Homo sapiens: one gene and its partners. The protein of the gene in region 1 interacts with the protein of each later gene in a pairwise test. Each region holds a gene or a part of one and is shown on either strand. Other genes may lie near its edges.

Region 1 (7,965 bases):
GTCTGCTTCCTTCCTCCCCCTCAAAGTTAGCCTTAGACTTGCCCTTGATAATGACTAATGACATCACAGCCCTGCTTGTTTTGAACAGGGTAGGCACACTGTCTAAAAAACATGTGACCAGAAGAACGAGAAGCTGGGGAAAGCACTTGAGGACACAGACCTAAAGATGTGTTTTAGTGGCTGCTTCAAACTGTGGAGACAAACCCAGTACACAATTCTTAATTCTATCTCTAGAAAGCCAAGAGGTTCTGAGGCTCCATTTCATAACAGAGACTTGAACTGAAGCATGAACTGAAAACAAAAATGAAGAACAGCAATTTGCTAAACCTCAAACCAAAGACAAATATTATTCCTTTTGCTGAACCATGAACCAAGGGTTTAATCACTTTACAGTAGAGTTGAGGCTATTGATTTTTGTAAAACCACTGAACAACACAAATAAGATAAAAATATTCCCTGAAGTATTCCTCTTTGGTTGGAATCCTATTCTTGGAGTCAGGGATTCTTATAAAAGATGTAGAAAGATTAGAGTTTTTTGAGATCTTAACATATGAAACTGAAAAGCAGGGCAGAAACAAGGTATTCTCTTCCATCTCCTTTGTGGATCAGCCTCCTTAAAACCATGTAGGACTCACCAAGTGTTAAGACTGCATGAGGCCAGAGCCTGCTGTAATTCCTAGAAGACAGTGCCTTCCATGCAGGTAATTTCCTTGAATGTTTTCTGGCCTGCCCTCAACATTCCCTAAGTATCGAAAGATGACTTGGCTGGGTATGGTGGCTCAAGCCTGTAATCCCAGCACTTTGGGAGGCCAAGATGCGCGGATCCCTCGAGGTCAGGCGTTCCAGAGCAGCCTGGCCAACATGGTGAAGCCCTGTCTCTACTAAAAATACAAAAATTAGCCAGGCATGGTGGCATGTGCCTGTAGTCCCAGCTACTCGGGAGGCTGAGGCAGGAGAATCGCTTGAACCAGGAGGCCAGGAGGTAGGGGTTGCAGTGAGCCGAGACTGAGCCACTGCACACCAGCCTGGGTGATGGAGTGAGACTCTGTCTCAATTAAAAAAAAAAAAAAAAGGTCGGGCACGGTGGCTCACACCTGTAATCCCAGCACTTTGGGAGGCTGAGGCGGGCGGATCACGAGGTCAGGAGATGGAGACCATCCTGGGTAACACAGTGAAACCCCGTCTCTACTAAAAATACAAAAAAAAAAATTAGCTGGGCGTGGTGGTGGGCGCCTGTAGTCCCAGCTACTAGGGAGGCTGAGGCAGGAGAATGGTGTGAACCCAGGAGGGAGAGCTTGCAGTGAGCCGAGATCACACCACTGCACTCCAGCCTGTGCCACAGAGCAAGCCTCTGTCTCAAAAAAAAAAAAAAAAAAAAAGTTAAAAAAAACCCCTAATATTTAACTTATTTGCTATGAAATTCGGCAAATAAGCTATTTTCCCCCCACTAGACTGAAAGATCACTGAGGGCAGAAGACCTTTTCTGACTTTTCATTGCTATATTGTCAGCTACAGGGTTAGGCATTCAATAAACATTTATTGGGTGAATTCTAACTTGGATTTACCCCCTGGTTTAAGTCCTTGACTGATTACAATCTGACCGTGAAGGCTGGGCAGGAGAAACAGGTAGTGTCCAGATTCTCCGTAAATTCCAGAAAGATCCAAATGTGGTCCATCAGCAGGTGATGGGGCATAGTTTTGGTTCACACCAACTTACCCCACACTGACTTGAAGTATAGTCCATGAATTCAGCCATTGTTCTGAAGGAAGCACTAAGGGTTGGGGGTCTCTCTTCTCTCTATTTGAATAAATGGCACGTCACAGGTTAGCTCTAGGATTCCCTACTGGAGAATGAAGCCATTTTGGAAATAGTCTCCTTTTTACTTTTGGAAAGGCTCTGCAAGTTTATGTCAGAAAGAACGATGTTATTGAGAAAGAATTCCAACTCTAAAAGATAGACATGCAATTTATCCAGGATCTAAGAGACAGGCTTGCAGGCTTTCCTCTACTATCAGATGATAGCTGTAAGATTTTTTTTTTTTTTTTTTTTTTGAGACGGAGGTTTCGCTCTTGTTGCCCAGGCTGGAGTGCAATGGCGCGATCTCGGCTCACCGCGACCTCCGCCTCCCGGGTTCAAGCGATTCTCCTGCCTCAGCCTCCCTAGTACCTGGGATTACAGACATGCGCCACCACGCCCGGCTAATTTTGTATTTTTAGTAGAGACGGGATTTCTCCATGTTGGTCAGGCTGCTTTCGAACTCCCGACCTCAGGTGATCCGCCCGCCTCGGCCTCCCAAAGTGCTGGGATTGCAGGCATGAGCCACCGCGCCCGGCTAATTTTTTTTTTTTTTTTTAAGTAACCAACCAGGGCTGAACACTACCGTTATTCTACAGCTACCCAACAAGAATCTGTCAAATGTAAAGCGTTTTGAAAGGACTTTTCCATTCATTGTTCTGATCCTTTCCAGCTTCCGCTAAGGGAAGGTTTCCTCAGCTGCTTCTGCGCTGCGCACCCCTGGCTCCCAGCGGGCTACCGCGGCGCGAAGGACTGGGGCGGCCCCCGGCACAGCGACCCTCACCTCTCCCGGGAGAACGCGCTGCGGGCCGGCTGCCGGCTGTTTCTCTAGGTGGGGCGCCTCCCGGGCAAGGACCCCCATGCAGCCTTTGGGACGCTCCAGGGCATGCCAGTCCACCGCCCTCCTCTTGGCCCTCTCCAGCACTTCTAGAGCCAGCCTTGCTGAACGCTGCAGGGAACGTCGGTCCACCCCATTCAGCGCTGCGGCCGCCAAACAGTTGTCCATGGCTCCCTGAGTGGGCACACAACGTACAAACGCCGGCGGGTCAGCTGGGCCGCGGCGACCCTGCTCCAAATCCGGGTGGGAGCCCCAGCCTCGACCTCCCTGGAGACCACCGCTCCTGGTCCGCCCCCAACGCACACTCCAGCGGGAGCCCAGCCAGGACTAGGCCTAGCGCGCCCGCCCCTTCCATTTTCATCTACCCCTTCCGCTACTTAGGGAGCCCCCTCACCCGGCTCACTCGTCAAGGCGCATGCGCGCAACGCTATTCTAGGAAGAGGGACCAGGCCTAGCGCTCCCGGCGGCGCCGGCGCAGCTGGGCCATTGGCGGAAGGCGGGAGAGGCGGGAGAGGCGGGAGAAGTGGGGGAGGCGGGGCGGCTGGGCGGCCAAACACGCCTTCTGCGTCCCAGCCTTGGCGTCTGCGCGCGAGTTGCCTGGTTAACTGCTGAGCGCTGGAGGCGGGGCGCCGGGCGCTGGGGGCCGGGGGTCGGGGGTCGGGGGCCGGGGGTCGGGGGTCGGGGGCTGGGGGCTGAGGACTGAGTCGAGCCAGCAGCCCAGGGCATCTGTCCACGCTGTCAGAGGAGCCTCTGGGCGTGGGGCTGGCCCTTAGAGGGCTACTGCGCTGCTTAACTTGGTGGGTATAAAGGCAGGTCTCCTGTTGAGCTAAAAAATTATGGGGTACCAGCTAGGTAGGCAACATAGCGAGAACCCGTGTAGACACACACACACACACACACACACACACTAGCCAGGAGTGGTTATGGGGTACCAGCTAGGTAGGCAACATAGCGACAACCCGTGTCCACACACACACACACACACTAGCCAGGAGTGGTTATGGGGTACCAGCTAGGTAGGCAACATAGCGACAACCCGTGTCCACACACACACACAGTAGGAGGAGTGGTGGCGCGCATCTGTAGTCCCAGGTACTCGGGAGGGTCGAGGTGGGAGGATCGCTTGAACCCGGGAAGCGGAGGTTGCAGTGAGACGAGATCGCGCCACTGCACTCCAGCCTGGGCGACAGAGGAAGACTTCGTCTCAAAACAAAAACATCATGGGGAATAAGGCAAGTGCCTCCCGCGCCTCTTTCTGCTTGGTCTACATTTTGGGGTGTCGCTACTCTTGTTTGAGGAGGTGATTAGGCCAAACTGTGTGGCTGCCAAGGTGGCCTTTGGAGAAGGGAACAGCTCGGGATTGAGGCGAGACGGAGGCGGGGCTGTCTGCAGATGTTCCTGGCCCCCGGGGCAGGGGGCGCCTGAGAAGTTGTAGGGTCTCTCATAATCCCTCAGCGCAGCTCTCTCTCCCCTCCAGTGGGAAGTACGGATTCACATATTTTTGGAGACCTGTTCTCTTGGGGTCTGACTCCATCTTTTAGGAAGACTGCACCATGTTTAAGTAAGGAACTGTGAATGCTTACTTAAACCATGTTTAAGTAAGGACCTGTCACTCCACTCCGCTGGTTATTTGGTAGGAGATACAGCCCAGGCTCTCACTGCTAATTAGTGACTCAGCCGCACCACCCAGCGCAAAGCAAAGCGCCGATGCTTAGGAAGGTCCACTTTGAGGGACACGCTCAGTGGGGGTCACTTTAAGGAACACAAATAAATCCTCCTTTAAGTCTCCTCTGTGGTTCATGAAAAAGGAGAGAAACTCCATCCTCACCTAGTCTCAACAGATGGCTTGATGAGCAATTATCAGGTACCAGGTGAGTAGTAGCCGACCAATACGACCTCCTTCTATGCTACTTAACTTTTGCAAATTTCCTGCTTTCCCCTTATAAAAAAGAATAACAGTGAGTGAAACCCTACATTATTCTTGAGATGATTTTTTTTTCATTTTATTGGTATTCCAAAACATTTCCTTCAATAAGGGTTTATCAAGTGCCTCCTTTAGAACATAGTGGTTGTACGTGCATGGGGTCCTGTATATCCACTCGGGAGAGCTGGTTTGAATTCTGGCTCTGCCATCTTTTTTTTTCCATTTCTTCTCCTTCTCCTTCTCCTTCTCCTTCTTCCTCCTCCTCCTCCTTCCTCTTCCTCTTCTTCCTCTTCTTCCTTCTTCCTTCTTCTTCTTTTTTGTTTAATAAAGAAACGAGGGTATCACCCTGTCAGCCAGGCTGAAGTGCAGTGGCACGATCTCGGCTCACTGCAGCCTCGACCTCCTGGGCTCAAGCGATCCTCTTCTTCAGCCACCACGCCCTGCAAATTTTTTAAATGTTTCGTAGAGACAGGGTCTCCCTATGTTGCCCAGGCTCTCTGCCACTTTTTTGCTCTGTGGTTCTGGGCAAACATATTACTTCTTTGAGCCTCACTTTTCCTCATCTCTATATCTGGGGATTCCAATAGTACTAACTTCTTTAGACTGAGCTTCTTGAGGGAAGGGACTGTATCTGTAGTGTTTAGAGTTTAAGGTGCATCTAGTATTTACTATTTTGTCTGTCACAGTAAGGACTAAAAATAGCCCTTGAATGTGTGAATTGGGTTGCCATTAGGATTCTGTGAGATAATTCCTGTAAAATGCTTAGCACAGTGCCCGGCAAAGATAAGTGCTCCATAGACTTAGCTAGCATTAGTATGTGCCAGGCACTGCCCTAGGAGTTGTGGAGAACAGAATGTGGATCAGACTAAAGGAGAATAAAAAAGAGGAAAGAATGCACATAAAATCTATAATACCAAGAACAAAATATTCGGACATGCCATAAGATTGACACAGATAAAATGCTATCAAGCTTAGGAGACTATGTTCAGCTGGGAGGATCAAGAAAGGTTTTGCAGAGAATGTAGTTTTCAAGCTAGGCCTGATGGCCTAGGAATCAGTGAGAGAAGAGGTAGATAAGATACCCGTTAACTGCTTTTACAATAAGTGTGGTTGGAGTGGGACAGAATTTGGTCCTCTTTATTTTTTATGGATTTCAAGGTTTTAGCACATTCCTCATAGGGTTATTGTGAATATCAAGTAAGTTAATATCTATAAAGTGCATTTATAGTACTTGGTACATAGTAGGTGCTCAATAAATATTAGCTAGTATTATTATCTTAAGCTTCAGCCTGGTCTCCCAAAATATGCTCTCACTTACCCAGTATCATAGCCACACCTCATCTCATTTGTCTCTCTTCCCCATTCTATTTTAGTCATTCCAGTTGAGGCACTACTTTCTTTTTGTCAGGTCAGCTCTTTGAAACTTTTCCCAGTGGTTCCCAGTTGCCACCTCTGTTGCCATAGCCTTAAAAAAATTTTTTGTGTGTACTTTTCCAATCTAATTTAAATTATGTGTAGTTATGGTTTCTTCTCTCCCAATAGCCTTTCAATTCCTTGAAGGCAGAAACTGTTCCTTATTTGTCCCTAAACATTCCAGGACCTGTTAAGTAGCGGGTGTTCAGTAGCCATTTGTTGAAATTACTCTGATTTAATTTTTAAGTTAAATAGACTTCTGTTAGCCCACATAAAGAGGTGGCTTTGTGGTGGCTCACACCTGTAATCCCAGAAGTTCAGGAGGTTGAGGTGGAAGGATTACTTGAGGCCAGGAGTTTGACAGCAGCCTGGGCAACATAGTGAGACCCCTGTCTCTATTTTTTAAAAAATTAAAAAACTAGCCTGGCATGGTGGCTCATACCTGTAGTCCTAGCTACTCGGGAGGTTGAGATGGGAGGATTGCTTGAGTCCAGGATGTTGAGGCTGCAGTGAGCTATGATCGTGCCACTGCCCTCCAGCCGGGGCAACAGAGTAAGAACCTATCTTAAGAAAAAAAAGAGTTGGCTTTTCTATTAAAAAAACACCTACCTACATGAACTTTAATGAATGTAATGAATATTCAATTGTAACTACATTTTCTCAGAATTTAACATTTAGAAATTTATGGGAAAGAAGATGCTTGAAATGAAACTGAAACCAAAAGACTCTAAATTAAATCTTTGCATTTGTTTTTATTTTTCTATTTGTAAATATATTTGTAAATATATTTTTATATGTGCATATTTATAATTTTAAAGATTCATCCTGTAAACCACAGATTGAGAGACTTGAGAGATTCCTTTTTATCTTTTTTAAGATTGGCTGGGAATAATGATAGAACATGACCTACCATCAGGCCCCTTGTGGATCAAATATAGCCCACGCCAAATGAAAGCCACTGGTGAGAACTGAAAATGGAATTGTAAATGGAGAGAGGGCAACTAATTAGGAATGTGCCTGGTCAACAGGGAAATAGACTGTCAGTATTGACAGAAAAATAAACTATTGATATGAGTTTTTAATGACTTCTATCTTCACAAGGGTAAATTCACTAATGAGAACAGATGAAAGTTAGTTGTCAGGGTTCTATGTTTTGGAGGAGATGCGTTGGAAGAGGTCTTTAATTGTGAAATGGGGAAAGAGACTGGTGCTGTATTTGGGACTTTTTGAGGAGAAAAAACAAGTCCAGTGAAGAGCAATGTAAATTCCTTTTCTTTATGTGAAGGGGGCCAAAAAGGGTTAAAAACCCAGGATGCAAAAGTGGGTACTGTGCCAGAGTTAGACAGTGATTTATACTGTACATACCAGAAACTGTATAAATCATTTTATTTGACAAATGGTATTGTTATTTCTCCAGCAGACTTAAGAGCTTTGGAATCATCACAGCTTTGTAAGGTAGTATTACAGACTGAGTCATTAGATCATTCATTTTGCCTGATTACATCATCTCACTGGGTTATTGGGGGAATGAAAGAAACTCATTATCAAAATTGTCATCTTGATGATGTAGATTAAAGAAAATGAATCAAACTTCTGAGAATTAACTTTCACAATCTGTTTAAAATTGACTGGGAGTTAAAAAAATTGGTTGCAGAGCAGGAATGATTGAAATCTTGTCATTTTTAAAAGTCAGAGATCAAAGGAATAGTATTTGGAAGATATTTAATATAAACAGTTGAAATTTATGTAGAGTTTTTTTTTTTTTTTTTTTGAAGACTTCTTGGCTGGGCGCGGTGGCTCACACCTGTAATCCCAGCACTTTGGGAGGCTGAGATGGGCAGATCACGAGGCCAGGAGATTGAGACCATCCTGGCTAACACGGTGAAACCCCATCTCTATTAAAAATACAAAAAATTAGCTGGGCGTGGTGGCAGGAGCCTGTAGTCCCAGGGGAGGCTGAGGCAGGAGAACGGCGTGAACCTGAGAGGCAGAGCT
Region 2 (7,103 bases), on another chromosome or scaffold:
ATTGCAGCCTCTGCTCTACCTTCTCAAGGTTGAACTGGAAGCATTCTAACCCCCTTGAGATATAAGGACACTGGAGAATTAGTAAATGCCCTTGGCTCTCAGCTGAACTTTGATTTTCAGCAATGAGGCCCAATTCAGTTCCTTCTCACTCAGACTCCCTCACCAACCAGTATGCTCGACCACATTTACCAAATTATTATCAAGAACTTAAGCCAAGTAATTCCTACACAGGAAATTATCCCTAACGCCAAAGTCATCCACCTCACCTTTCTTGGGGGGTATATGTCCCTAAAATACTTAATAGAAAGGGGTATTTAGTTCCCCAAACATGCATGTCACAATTCAATGGAACATCTCTTACCTTTCAGTTCAGTGGCCTCTAGCAGTTTCTTCCACAAACTGATCACCTCATTCATACGAGCTGCCACTTCATCCTTGGCATAGTGGTTGACATCAATCAGCTTTTGGCCAGCTTTCTCCAAGGCATCAATTCGGCTCTGGTTTGCTGAGAGCTCAGCCTCAAAAGCCTGATGCTTCTGTACTTTTCCTTGTAGGTTGGATGGATCCTGTGAATAAAAGAAGGGGGTTCTTTCTATCTTGAACCTGAGAACGTCAAGTTCCCTTGCACTACCTTCATACTTATCTTTATGGAGGAATGTATAAAACAGTTGGCTTACATTAAGTAGTGGGGTTTCTGGAATCCCTTATTTCGTCCTTTAGCTACAATTTATTTGTGAGAGCTGTGTTTAGCTTACTAATCGAGTGCTACATGGCAACACTAACAGTACATTACTTTATAAGCTTCATCTGTGGCAGTTTTCATCTTCTCATTGACCCAACTCTTGAGCTCATCAGAATCACGGAAAAACTGCTGCAGATGGAAAGAATCGGCTAGCTGGGCCCGGCGACGCATGGCTCTCTCGTGAAGGGCATTGCGGCGGCTCAACAGCTGAAAGACAAGGATCCCCTGTGAGTCTCTAGTGTTCACTCCCAAAGGGATATCCAGTTGAAGAGACTTAACTGGAACATCTTAGAAGAGACATTCATGTACCAAAAAGGAGGAGCATGAAGAACCTACAAACTTACAGCATCTCGGCGAGTGGCCACATCTTCCATTGCATAGTGGTTGTTCTGAATTAGCTTGGTTGCAAATTCATCTAATGCCTAGGAAGGAAGATAAGAGTTCTTCATTGGTAAGCACACTAGTCCCAAGCTTGGCCTCTGGAGAAAAGTAACTGCTGAACAGATCATAAAACACACCAAACTTTAACATAGGTCAAGGTTTTCACCCAAAGGTTGGTGATGACATTTTTTCTCATAACTTTTGAGATTTTGCTTGATGTCACCAGTCAGATATCATAAGACTGCACTACCTCCATTCAAGACTGGAGACATTAGTTGTGGCACGATCTCCTGGCAGGGGTCAAACACAGGTTAACAGCTTTCCAAATTCTTATTTCTAAGATGTATTTTCAATGGGAAGAGTACCTCTTAATATTAACCCTGACCTACTTTTAATGAAGGGTACAAACTTAAAGAAGTTTGGAGGTTTCCATTAAGTAAATCATTTTTCCATAAAGTTGTATTATGTCTTCAACGAGATAGCATGTCATCCTTGTGAAAGTTTAAGCACCCACAGGAGTACTCTGCATATGAATCTTTCATCAAATCTGTTTGGAATCCTTCCAGGGAAAAAGACTCTGGCTTACTATAAGGGTCATTTGAAAGCACTGACAAGAAGGGGTCTTACTGTAATCTTTTCCTCCTGGGCACTAAGGGATTTCTCAAAGTCTTCGTGCTTCTTAAGAAGCGCTTCCACACTATCCAAGGAATCTCCCAAGTCTTCATTCAACAGGAACGCCTTGCCAAAGGAAACAAAGTGTTCAGAATAATGTCCTATTCCTTTGATCTTCTAAGACTGTGAAGCAAAGGGTATTTTGGCCAAAATATAAAAAGAAGGAAAGAGATTTTATGGCTGCTAAACTTCTAAGATCTCTTCTAGGAAGTCTAAAGTCCTTTTGGATTTTCTTAAAATCAATCCAGCCATATCATGAAATCCTATTCCACATTCTATTGAAACTTCTCTTACATAGTTTTTGTTGCTTCTATTAGATTCAGATGTTACATAATGCTAAGGTTTGTTTTTTTTGTTTGTTTTTTTTTTTTTTGTGAGACAGGATCTCGGTCTGTTGCACAGGCTAGAGTGCGGTGGTACGATCATAGCTTGCTGCAGCCTTGAGCTCCTGGGCTCAAGGGATACTCCCATCTCAGCCTCCCAAAGTGCTGGGATTACAGCAGGGAGCCACTGCACCCAGCAATGCTAAGTTCTAAGAAAAAAATCTCTTTAATAAAACATTTTACATCACACTAATCTGAAAAGCTGGGGCCTTTTCTGAAGGCCTTGCAATCTCAGCAGGGAGAGATGCTGGCAGAGCTGAGAGAAGCTTGCTCAATTCCCCCTCTTCAATGGATTCAGAACTAACATGGTACTGATGTCCTAAAACAAAACAAGCACACTACCCGAGGAGGCAAAACACAGGCCCTTCTTCTCCCACCACTGGCAAGGCTTTGCTCACAGATTACCTCCTGCTTGCTCATCCAGTTGTCCACCTGCTCAGTGTCCCGGTAGAAGAGCTGCAGGTCCATGCACTGCTCGTACTGCTGCCTGCGCAGCTCCCACAGCTCCAGCAGCGCCGCTCTCTCCTCGGAAAGGACGGTCAGCTTGGGGGCATAGGAGACATGGTCAGGGAGATGAGGTCAGCCCCAATGCCTCCGAGGCAGACAGAACAGCTATCCTGGAATTCCTAATCCTAGTGCTAATCTTCAGGCCTTTTTTCCGATTTGCAAAAGGGGAAAAACAACATTCACTTGTATGTGCATGTTCAATATAAAAGGGATGGCCTGTTTTAATTAATCTAGAATTAATTTATTGCCAAATGATCACAAATGACTTTAGGTAAAAACAGTAAGTAAACTCCCAGGTAGAAGAAATAGGGCATCCATTTAAAAGTGAGGCAGTATAAATGGAGTTTAATGGAGTATAAATGGAGTAGGGACTCTCCACTAAGAAATGTCAACTGAGTGGGTGCTCCATAACATATGGAAAATAAATTCAGAAACTCCCTAGACTTTAGGCTCCGAAGCTACTAATGACAAGTCTTTGAAATGTCTTTACTCTATGTAATACTAAAAAACATATAAATCATATAAATCATTATTTATCTAATGTTCCTAGGCAATTTTATACTCGAAGATACTTCAAAACTTATATACATATGTGTATATATATACACATATAAAAAAAGTAAAATAAAATATGTATATATATACATATTTTATTTTTATTTATTTATTTTTTTTTAGAGACAGGGTCTCACTCTGTCACTCAAGCCAGAGTGCAGTGGTGCAAATCATAACTCATTATAACCTTGAACTCAAGTAGCTCGGACTATAGGAATGTGCCACCATGTCTGGCTAATTTATTAATTTTTTGTCCAGATGGGGGTCTCACTATGTTGTTCAGGATGGTCTCCCATTCCTGGCCTCAAGCAATCCTCCTGCCTTGGCCTCTGAAAGTGCTGGGGTCACACCACACCTGGCCTATGTATCATTTTATAAAAATTTGTTTCCTCTTTGCTCCAACTCCTAATGCAAGACTCAGCTCCCTACAGAAAGTCCCTGTAAGTAGGAAACATGCCACACATGCCCCAGATAAGGAGGACTGTCTCTCAGGAAATCAGCACACTATACATATACCTTCTTTTTAAACCTCTGCAGAGAAAGGAAAGTTTCTCACATATCATGGTGAATGCGTTCTCTGGATATTTAAGGATGAATAATAGCTTTCAGAGACTTAGTGAAAGGTGTAATTTGCTCCTCAAAAGCTCCATTTCTCTTCTCTTACCTTCTCCCTCACTTCATCTGAGGCATAGTGACCAGCAGCAAGCAGTGCCTGTCCAGATTCATCTGCAGATTTGAAGCTGTCTTCATGGGCATCAATTTCACCCTACAGGAGAAAAAAACAAAGCCATGATTTGTGCCCAGCATCTTACAAAATAAAAACAAGGTGCTGAATTTTACATAAGCATTATAAGCCAGACTATGACATCTAAAATGAGAAACAAAATGAAAGATTAGGCCAGATTTCCTAATACATAATCAGTCTAGGTCATCAAATGTGAGAGTATCACTCACTGATGAAATCCTTTCCAAATGGCTTTTCAGGTCACCTGTCATTTGTCAAGGTTCCACACATTCACATGGGTCTGAGCTCTCTTTCATTCCAGGGCTCTGTCTTCTTTGTGCCAAATGGACTTGTTTACTATGATTTTATAGAACCTGGTAGGGCGAGTCCCTCCCTGGCCCCATTATGATCTTCAACATTGTCTCAGCTTTTTTTGAATTTTTTTCTTCCAAATCAGTTTTGGAATCAGCTTATCTCATTGCAAAAAGAAACACACACATATACCTGCTGAGCACTTGACTGGAACTGCATTAACGGTATATATCCTGGTGGGAATTTACACCTTCACAGAAGATCGTTCCATCTGTGTACTAGATAAATCATTCTATCTATTCAGTTTTTATTTAATGCCTTTTAACAAAGTTTTATAGTTTTCTCCAGAAGTGTCTTACACTCTTTTGTTAGACTTATTCCTAAGTACTTTATATTTTCTGCTCTAATAAGTAGTATTTTTAAAAATTATGTTTCTGTTGCTAGTGTAGAGAAACATGTTTGACTTTCAGTATATTGATTTTGTATCTAGCACATTAAAACCTCTCAGAAGGTTTTTTTTTTTTTTTTTTTCTTTGAGACAGAGTGAAACACTCTTGTTGTCCGGACGGGAGTGGAATGGTGTGATCTTGGCTCACTGCAACCTCTGCCTCCCGGGTTCAAGCGATTCTCCTGCCTCAGACTCCTGAATAGCTGGGACTACAGGCGCGTGCCACCATGACCAGCTAACTGTTGCATTTTTAGTAGAGATGGGGTTTCACCATGTTGGCATGGATGGTCTTGATCTCTTGACCTCATGATCCACCCGCCTCAGCCTTCCAAAGTGCTGGGATTACAGACATAAGCCACCGTGCCTGGCCCAACAAATACTTTTTACATCACAAAGGATCAATGTGCCAAGTAGTAGCACTTCTATCTCGCCAGAGCTTGTCTGTTTGCTTTTATGGACCACAGTGAACCTCTTGACACTGAACCCAGTTAAGCCTCTATCAGAAGCAGGTAGACCAGGTCTCCAAAGGCAAAACCAACCATAATCCTCATGATGAGAAACACCTGTGAATAACATGGTACCAACGCCGACTATAGGCCTCACCCAACACTGATAAACTGGTGCATTATAAGCTAAAATCTTCACTTCTGGAAGATTCTAGAGATACCATTACCTTGTGCTCTTGGTGTCTATCTAGCAGGGCTTCAGCCCCAGCCACATCACTGGCAAGCTCATCTGCATTGATGAGGGCTTTCATCTCAGTCACCCAGCTGGTGAGGTCACGGAAGTCAGCAAGGAAGCGTTGAAGCCTAGGGAAAACCAAAGGAAGACATTATGTTTCCAGCGGAGGTTCCAGGGTGGAAAATGGCCTCCCTAAAGCTCTGAATTCTATGTTCTCAAATGTCTAACAAACTATATAAATTCTAATTCTGGGAAATATGAAAATTTCCCAATCTAGACTGTGAAGGAAAGCAAGAGAAGGCTGAAATCAACCCTTTAAAACTTAGGTTCTCTCCATCACTATAATGCCCCAATCCTGTCCCACATTTTCAACTTCCTTGTTATTCCCAGGTTCAACCCTTGGCTAGCAAGGATTCTTTTCCTTTCTAATCCTGGTTTTAATAAGATATTTCATGTGATACTCAGATACTTAAAGGGACATTCCCATTCTATCAATCATAATGCAGTGATGCAGAATAGAAGAATTTATGAAGTTGTAAATACCATACGTATACTACACATGATACAGTTGCCAGTCTCCAAACAGAGAGAACATAGGTAAGAAGTGATTTGCATTTGTAGGTGATACCTGACACTTTCACAGAACACAGAACAGACCCTTAACTCTGCTATTCCTGCTTCCAAAAAAGAAGCCAAATGATACTGGTTAAGACCTGGAGCATTATTTGCACCTGTATGAATCATTGAGCCGTGCATGTCTCTCTGCCGCCAAGGTGCGGATCTGCTCCCAGTTTGTAATCAGTTCCTCTCGCTTCACTTGAATCTGTGTTGCACTCAGAGGGTGGGACTGTTGCAGGCGGTCAGCCTCAGCACACAGGGCTTTGACCTAGAAATGAACTCCGTCAGAACTATTCTCCTGACCCTTGGTAACTTATTTACAGAATCAGCTGCTTGTAAAACCCACCTTGTCTTCTAGAGCAGCAAGATCTCTCTCCAGACCCTCGTGCTTCCGAAGCAGAGCCTGAACACTTGCCAGGTCTCGGCCAAAATCATCAGAGGCCATTAACTGCTCCTTTTCCTTAATCCAACTGATAGTCTCATCCACATCCCTACAGAACAAAGGCACCAGTTAATCCACAGCAATGATGACTCCCTAGAACTAGGAACACCCCATGGGACCAAGGCCTAGTCAGCCTCGACAGCTCACCAGCACATGCCCTGTGCTTCACAACTCCCCTCCAGGTTGAGACCCATTCCCCAAAGCCCACTCTGGCTTGACACCTGTTAAAGCGCTGAACTTCTGCTGCCCCAAAGAGCTTCCCCTGCCTCTGCAGAGCCAGGCCCTTCAGCCGCTGCCAGGCTGCATTGACTTCATCCTGCTTAGTCTTGATCAGTTCCTCCTCAGGGTGCTGCTCCTAAACAAGGAAGAGAAGAGACTGGATTTGTACACAACTTCTGGCTCCTCCAACTAGTTACCCTGGGGTTGGTTCCTTGAAGCATCTCAGCAAATCACCACTCTGAAGAGAATCACAAGAAATAATGGTCAACATGATACAAAGTGAACTACAACTCCAAAGAGTTTCTATTTCTTATGTAAAAAGGGGAGAGCCATTCTCTATCTTTTGGAGTAGTGTGGTTAGTCTATAAGGTGGTTATGTGCAAAAGTGCCAAAAACCTTTATGTTAATAAATAGTTTGG
Region 3 (7,274 bases), on another chromosome or scaffold:
CGTTATCTTTCCCCCAAGATCTGTTCTTCCTCTACCGTGTATTTCAAGCAGGAACCTGCCCATTCCTCCACCTCTGCCACCTCACTCAGCTACTGCACCCCAACAGATGGAACATTGTGTCGGCCCTGCCTCCCAAATGGGGCCTCAAGTCTGCTCTTGGCATCCCATCACCTCTGCTTTAGATCCCTACTTTAGATCACTAACACTGACCTCCAGGCTCTCCCCCTCTGCCTCCGAGCTGCTTCCTACTCCTTTCTTGCTGCTGCCAGTGTGCATCCCCCAAATCCCATCTGAACATATCACCTCCCGGCTCAAAGTCCCCAGGTCTTGAGGCTGCCTGTAGGGTCAGTCCAGATTCAGCTTGACCAAGCCAGCTGCTGGCCTCCACGTGCCACACTGACTTCTCCATCTTGTCCAAATAGTCCAGTCTCATTCAGACACTGCACAGGCAAAGCTATACATTTTGCAGCTAAATATTCTGGTTTTCTGCCATTCTGTCAAACACCCCCATCAGCCAGAGGCAGCCAAGGCTTCTTAATCCTTGCTTCATGCTAGAAAGAGCTCCAAGGTCCAGACTCACATCTGTGTCCCCAGGAAAGGTGAGTTGGTGCTAACCCTGTGAGGACTGGCAGATGTGTCTTCATGGTGTTAAAGCTGGGTAAAAAGCAAAGCAGCTGTGCAGACTGCCCCCTGCCAGGCAAGCACCCCACAAAGTCCTTCCTGCCTCTTCCTGCCTGCCTTTGGCTAAAAGCATCTTTCCAGAGAGAATCACACTTGACAGGCAAAGGCACAGGACTGCCAGGGAAGGAGGCTCTCCCCGCCACACCCGGAATAGAAACCCTAGACCCTCCCCCACCTTGCTCCCCAGCGGCATGTAAGGCCTGCAAATGCCCCAGAACCCAGTGCAGCCCAACTCACAAGTCATAGAAGTTGCGCAGGGAGGAGGCTGGGGTGAAGACATCCAGGAGCCCAATGACCTGGGGAAGAAGTCACCTGTGAGGGCTAGACAGACGCTACCTTCTCCTCCCACCTCCTCCTGGGCCCTGGCCATGCACAGGGCCATCCACCCTTTCCTAATACACCACCTCCAGCAGGAGGCATGTCTCCAACCTTCTTGGAAGCAGTAAAAAGGGCAGAGGCCTAGAGGAATCCCCTGGATTTGGAGGGAGTTTGCAATAAATCATGACAGAGAGTCAGGCTGGGGAGAAGGGAAGGTGGGGAGAATGATGTGTGCTCATTGCTGTCAAGTCTGGTGTCAGGGCAAGCAACACAAACCCACTCTCAACTCACCTAGGCAGCAGGAAAGCATAAGGGGAGGGTGGAAGGGAAAAAGGAGGGAACAGAGAAGGAGCTTTTCAGCCAGCAAACTCCCTGCCCCTGACCTTGGGTCTCCAGCCACATCCATCCTTGCCTGCCACAGGGCTGGTTCAGAGCCAAGGGCAAGATCACCCTGGCTGGAGGCCATAGGGGAGGGGTTTGCTGGAGAAGGATGGGCTTAAAATGTACATAACATTTTGAAATCATTCTTTGAAATGTCTGCCCTCCAATCTAGGTATCCTGCAGCAAAGCCTGGCTGCCAGGCCCTGAGCTGGGCCCCTGGTTTTCCCAGCTGCTTCTATCAGACAAGACAATCTGATGGTCATGTGCTCAGACCGGGAGCCTCGCTGCCGAGATTGAAACCCCAGCTCTGCTACTGACTAACCATCTAATCTGTGAGCCTTGCTGTGCTTTAGTTTCCTGTCTGTGACATGGGGGCAGTAGTACTCATATATCATGAGGACTAGACAAGTTAGTGTATGCAGAGCTCTTAGAACATAGGAAGTGCTCAATATGTGTATATTGCTATTGTTATCAGGGTCACGTGGACACAACGCTAACTAGGATTCTAGTCCCAGCTGGCCACAAGCTCTCAGACATGGAACCAATTACAAAGTTCCCCTGTGCCAATTTCCTCTGTAGGATAACACAGTCTGTACCTCACAAAGTGCATTCTGCCAAAAATACCCTTTGACCTCTTCCTGGAAAGTGGGCAGGGAAGGTCTCGGCACCCCCTCCTTTCAATAGTGAGGCGAGAGGCACCGTCAGGGGAGCAGGGAGGAGACTGTCCCGAGCTCTCCATACCGGGAGGCCCCGCCTGCGCCTGCCCCTGACTCCCCAGGGCAGCCCCCACCCCCTCCCCGGGGCAGCCACCACCTACGTTCTCATGCTGCATGTGCTTCAGCAGCAGCAGCTCCCGGTAGGCGCGCTTGGCGAAGATCTCGGACTGAAAGGGTCGGCTCAGCTTCTTGATGGCCACCTTCTCCCCTGACCGCTTGTCGATGGCCGAGCTGTCGGGCACAGGCCGGTCAGCAGGCGAGGCTCTCCTCCTGGGCCGTATCTCCCAGACCGCCCTGACCCCTCCCACTGGGCAGCTGGGCTGAGAGGGGACTAGGCCCACCACCTAGAATATGGGGGAGCCGCGGGACGCAGGGCAGGGAGTAGGAAGCCAGGCAGGAGCTGAGAGAGGGGCACAGCGCCAGGGGCAGCAACGTCTCATTGCGACGGGATCCACGGCAGGGCGGGAGTCTCACTCTGTCTGCAACTTGGCGAGCCACCTCCCCCTCTTGGGGCCTCGGTGTACTCGTCTGTAACAGTGAGGATCTGCCCGATGAACTCTGGGGTCTTGCAAGTGTACAGTCCTGGAGAACCAGGCCCAGTCCCAACTCAACCCCCAGAGACCTCACTCAGCCACTCGGTGAGAAAAGGGAGATGGCCGCTGGGTGGCCCCGGGGAGGGCGCTGGGCCTTGAGGTCCGCGGTCAAGGTGGCGCTGGCGAGGGGCCAGCCCAGGGCGGGCTGGGCGGAAAGGGGAGAGCCTGGCGCCCGCCCCCCGCCCCCCAGCGGCCCAGGGGTCTCACCACACGGAGCCATAGGCCCCGCTGCCGACGTGCGTCGGGGACACGTAGGTCTTGGGCAGCTCCCAGGCTGTCTTGTTGACGTCCTGCTTGTAGAAGCCCTTTTTCCGGATGAGGCTCATCCCGGGCACCCGATCTCGGCGGCCCCAGCGTGGCGGCTGCGTTCGCGGCCCAACGGGCTCCCAGCGCCCCGACCCCCGCTGCGCCCGCCCCGCGCCGCCCGCTCCTCCCCCGCGCGAGGGCGGGGGCCCCGGGCTGCTACGCTCCCACCTGCCGGCTCGCCCAGGTGCGCCGGGGCCGCCACGCCCGGGCCTGTCCAGCCCTGCGCTCCCGCGCTTCCGCCCGGCCCGACGGAGCCACTGCGGCAGGTGCGGCCCAGGCACGGGGTCGGGGCTGCCCAGCGGGACCCCGGTGCCTCCCAGCCGAGCGCGGGCCAGCGGCGGGGCTGGTGGGTCCAAGCAGGAGCGGGGAGGCAGTGCTTCCCAGTTCCCTCCAGCCCCGGTCTCCGTAGGAAGAGCTCCCTGTGACTGTGAACACACAGGAAAGCAGAACAAAACCCCACAACCTCTTCATTATGGAAAATGTCAAACATGCAGGAAAGAATTGAACAGAGTAAGCCAGCGCTTCTCACACTTCAGTGTGCTCAGGAATCCCCTGGGCATTTTATTTGATTAAAATACAGATCCTGACTCAGTAGGTTTGGGGTGGAGCCGAGATTCTGCATTTCTAGCCAGCTCCCAGGTCTGAGGCTTCTGAACCACATCTGATAGGAGGTTCTAATGAACCCCCGTGACCCCAATTCCCCAGCAACCACAACTCATAATCAATTTTATTTCATCCACATTCCTCTCCCACCATCGTTTTGAAGCAAAACCCAGGCGTCATATCATTTTATTCATAAATATTTTTGTATCTCTAAAACGTAAGGATTTTTAAAAGTACGTATCCACAATACTATATATATATATTTTTTGAGACTCTGTCGGAGTGCAGTTGCCATCTCGGCTCACTGCAACCTCCGCCTCCCGGGTTCAAGCAATTCTCTGCCTCCGCCTCCCGATTAGCTAGGATTGTAGGTGCCTGCCACCAAACCCGGCTAATTTTTGTATTTTTAATAGAGATGGGGTTTCACCATCTTGGCCAGGCTGGTCTTGAACTCCTGACCTCGTGAACCACCCGCCTCGGCCTCCGAAAGTGTTGGGATTACAGGCGTGAGCCACCGCGCCTGGCCCACAATACATTCTTAAACCTAAAATTAATAGCACTAATTCTATAATACCAAATATCCACGCAGGTTCAAATGTGCAGGATTTTTGTTTGTTTTTGACATGGAGTCTCACTCTATTGCCTAGGCTGGAGTGCAGTGGCGCCATCTCAGCTCACTGCAACCTCCGCCTCCCAGGTTCAAGCAATTCTCTTGCCTCAGCCTCCTGAGTAGCTGGGACTACAGGTGCACACCACCACTCCTAGCTAATTTTTGTATTTTTAGTAGAGACGGGGTTTCACCATGTTGGCCAGGCTGGTCTTCAACTCCTGACCTCAGGTGGTCCGCCCACCTCAGCCTCCCAAAGTGTTTGGATTACAGAAGTGAGCCACCGCACCTGGCCCAAATGTGCAGTTTTGAACACAGTTTCTGTGGACTTCCTAAGGCTCTATGAGGACAATGACTAATTGGGGCCCTTGCCACCTGTCTGGTGGCCTGTGCAGCCTGATGGAGATTCTTTGCTCAAACCACAAAGGCCTCTGAGGAGCAAGGTGGGCAGGTGGGGGGAGGAGATGGCTGCAAGGGCTCTGGATGCCCAGCCTGACTTGTCCAACCCCTCTCTTGCCCAGGCATGGGGCTGTGGAAGGGGCGGGGACCACCTGCTTCACTTTGTCAAAAAGAAGGTCTATTGAACAAGGAAAGAAATTTGCTAGGGGCTTACAGCAAGCCGGGGGCCCACACTAGGGAGTCTGCAGCCCCCAAACTCTGTGCCCCAAGCCCTCCCGGGCAGTCCTGCAGCCTCAGGCACAGCCTGGAAGATCATTCTGAGATGAGGGTGGGGTGCCATCATCACACAACAACACCTGCCATTATTTCAGTCAGGCAATCTGTCTTTTTCATTTCTGGCACATGGCAATATAACAGCAAATGTGTGGAGAATGAATGGAGGAGTCAGCCCATTAGATGTAAAAGAGTCATTTAATACACACTTGTGTTTGCCATGTGCCCGTCATTAAGTGTTTTATATAACTCACTTAATCCTGGTAAGAGGCCTGTGAGTCAGTAATATGATTATCCTCATTTTAGAGATGAGGAACCCGAGGTACAGAGAGGCTAAGTAATTTGCCCAAGGTAACACAGCTGGTAAGGGCAGAGCTGGGTGAAAGCAAGTACAGCCTGATTCTAGAGTCCCTGCTCTTGGCTGCGAGGCTATGCGGTGGCCTAGAGTTGACAGAATTGCTCCTCAAAGGAAATGGCCTTGCCCACATCATAAGGACATGTCTACTGATCCAACCATGTCTCCCTCAGTCCATCCTGCCCTGGGGTATCTGATATTTTCCCCAGCCTTTTCCCTCCCCCACCCCCTACTCTGGCCCTGAGACCCCATGAGAGCCTAAGGAACGGGGTCGCTTGCCTGTGAGTGCTGCAGGAGTTTTGGACCTTTGGGATCAGTGGCACCAGTGCAAGGTACCTTGATTCTGAAGTTGGGGTGGGGTCCTGGAAGCCAGATTTTAGGCTAGACGCAGGCAAAAGAGAGTAACTGACCTCAGAGATTCAGGTTTTCTTCTGGTTTGAGGATCCAGTAAGGAAAGGGGCTAGGATGTGGCACCAGGTCAGGATGGCGCCTCTCTGCTGCACGTCTTAAACACCTGAGTGGGGCAGAGGTGAGCCCAGGAAGGTGGGGATACCAAGGACATGCTCATCGCCCAAGTGGGTGCGATCTTCTGAGAGCACGAGTGGCCACTCTGGCTGTAGCTCCGGATGCTCTTGAGCAAGGGTCAGGAAGTGACTCAGGCCTCCGACTCTGCTGACACTGACCCCTACTCTGGGCCTGACTGGCTCTGCATTACTCAGCAGCCAGGCAGTCTGGGAGGGAGCCCTTGGAGGATCCAGTTGGGGAGTCATGAAAGGGAGGGGAGGAGGAGAGGGTCACTCAGGTCATCCTGGATACCCTGCTTCTCCAGCCTGAGGCTCTCTTTTGAGTTCCAAGGGCCCTTTGCTCTTCTCCTCTCCAAACACCAACCCAAGTTGTCTTGTTGGTTTCTGCCCTATGAGCATGGAGCATGGAGGCAGGGATTCAGGAAACTAGCTTTGGAATGAGGCCTGAATTTACATCCTTTCTCTGTCATTACCAGCTGTGTGACCTTGGGCAAAGTCTGGCCCTCTCTCTGAGCTTCAGTGTCCTCCTTGTGAAATGGGGATAATAATAAAGTATGACAAGCATATTGAAAGAGCCTTAGGATTGTATCATTTCAAGTACATATTCCTCACGACAACCCAATGAGGTAGGAACTTTCAATGCCTCCAACCAGAGATCACCAGAAACACACGTGTGGGTGAACAAGCTGAGCTGATGACTCGTTGCAACAAGGGAGAGCATGCACCATGGGGATCATGGGGCGTCCCAGGAAGGGGGCGTTAGAAAGGACTTAGTCTAATGTTTGGAGTTGTGTTAGGTGATTGGGGAGAGGTTAAGGAAGTGAGGCTTTGTTCTGGGTTGATGCTGTCAGGAAGTGGAGCTAACACTATGATTGGGAGTCTTAATACATCTTGCCTAGAAGGAAAGCAGACTAGAGCAAGGCTGAAGCTACAGCTGGTAAACCAGCAGCCTCCACTCAGCTTAGCTCTACAGGGGGATTTGGGTCATTTCTGTGATTTGACAATATTCATGTTTTGTCTGTGTTCAGATATGATTAAGGAGTAGTTTCATTTTTGTCTTAGTCTGCCCTGGTCGCGGATGGCCTTGTTCTATGCTGATGTCTGTGAAATCGTCTATGTTCAGCACAGCAAGACCGAATTGCACCAGGCTGGACAGCTCTGAGCAACCAAGTCCTGGCTGATAGGACCAGGCAGCTCCCAGATGTCAGGGCTGCTTTGGTCTAGTCTATTCCAATATAATTATTCCCCTGGTACAGATGGAGAGACTGAGGCCCGGAGAGGTTATGTAATTTGCCCAAGGTCGCACATAACTAAGAAAGTGGTGAACATGATCTTCATACCTGGCATCTGGCTCCTAAGTCTGCACATTTAACTGTCAACTAGAATTCCTGGTGCCCAGCAAGTGCCTGAGAAGTGGCTGCTGTTGTTGCATTGTCTTCCTAGCTAGCCTGTGAGCCTCTGGAGGCAGAGACATGGTGTGGGAATTGGTGACTGGTTTCTTAGAGATCGAGACAAAAG

What was found.
Region 2: the proteins of AKIP1 (region 1) and SPTAN1 interact in a two-hybrid assay, tested with the Homo sapiens proteins (one study listed by BioGRID).
Region 3: the proteins of AKIP1 (region 1) and MAPK13 interact in a two-hybrid assay, tested with the Homo sapiens proteins (one study listed by BioGRID and IntAct).

What each region holds. Positions count from the first base shown.
Region 1 is NC_000011.10:8,906,286-8,914,250, reverse strand, and holds the start of AKIP1 (A-kinase-interacting protein 1), read right to left. Parts: upstream 3,063-7,965; 5' UTR 3,028-3,062; exon of another isoform or gene 2,808-3,027; 5' UTR 2,802-2,807; coding exon 2,580-2,801; intron 1,799-2,579; coding exon 1,718-1,798; intron 1-1,717. UniProt on the Homo sapiens protein: Enhances NF-kappa-B transcriptional activity by regulating the nuclear localization of the NF-kappa-B subunit RELA and promoting the phosphorylation of RELA by PRKACA.
Region 2 is NC_000009.12:128,576,540-128,583,642, reverse strand, and holds part of SPTAN1 (spectrin alpha chain, non-erythrocytic 1), read right to left. Parts: intron 6,821-7,103; coding exon 6,687-6,820; intron 6,515-6,686; coding exon 6,370-6,514; intron 6,292-6,369; coding exon 6,137-6,291; intron 5,534-6,136; coding exon 5,398-5,533; intron 4,007-5,397; coding exon 3,905-4,006; intron 2,722-3,904; coding exon 2,584-2,721; intron 1,862-2,583; coding exon 1,751-1,861; intron 1,165-1,750; coding exon 1,087-1,164; intron 950-1,086; coding exon 794-949; intron 567-793; coding exon 362-566; intron 1-361. UniProt on the Homo sapiens protein: Fodrin, which seems to be involved in secretion, interacts with calmodulin in a calcium-dependent manner and is thus candidate for the calcium-dependent movement of the cytoskeleton at the membrane.
Region 3 is NC_000006.12:36,126,324-36,133,597, reverse strand, and holds the start of MAPK13 (mitogen-activated protein kinase 13), read right to left. Parts: upstream 3,086-7,274; 5' UTR 3,016-3,085; coding exon 2,897-3,015; intron 2,328-2,896; coding exon 2,198-2,327; intron 978-2,197; coding exon 919-977; intron 1-918. UniProt on the Homo sapiens protein: Serine/threonine kinase which acts as an essential component of the MAP kinase signal transduction pathway.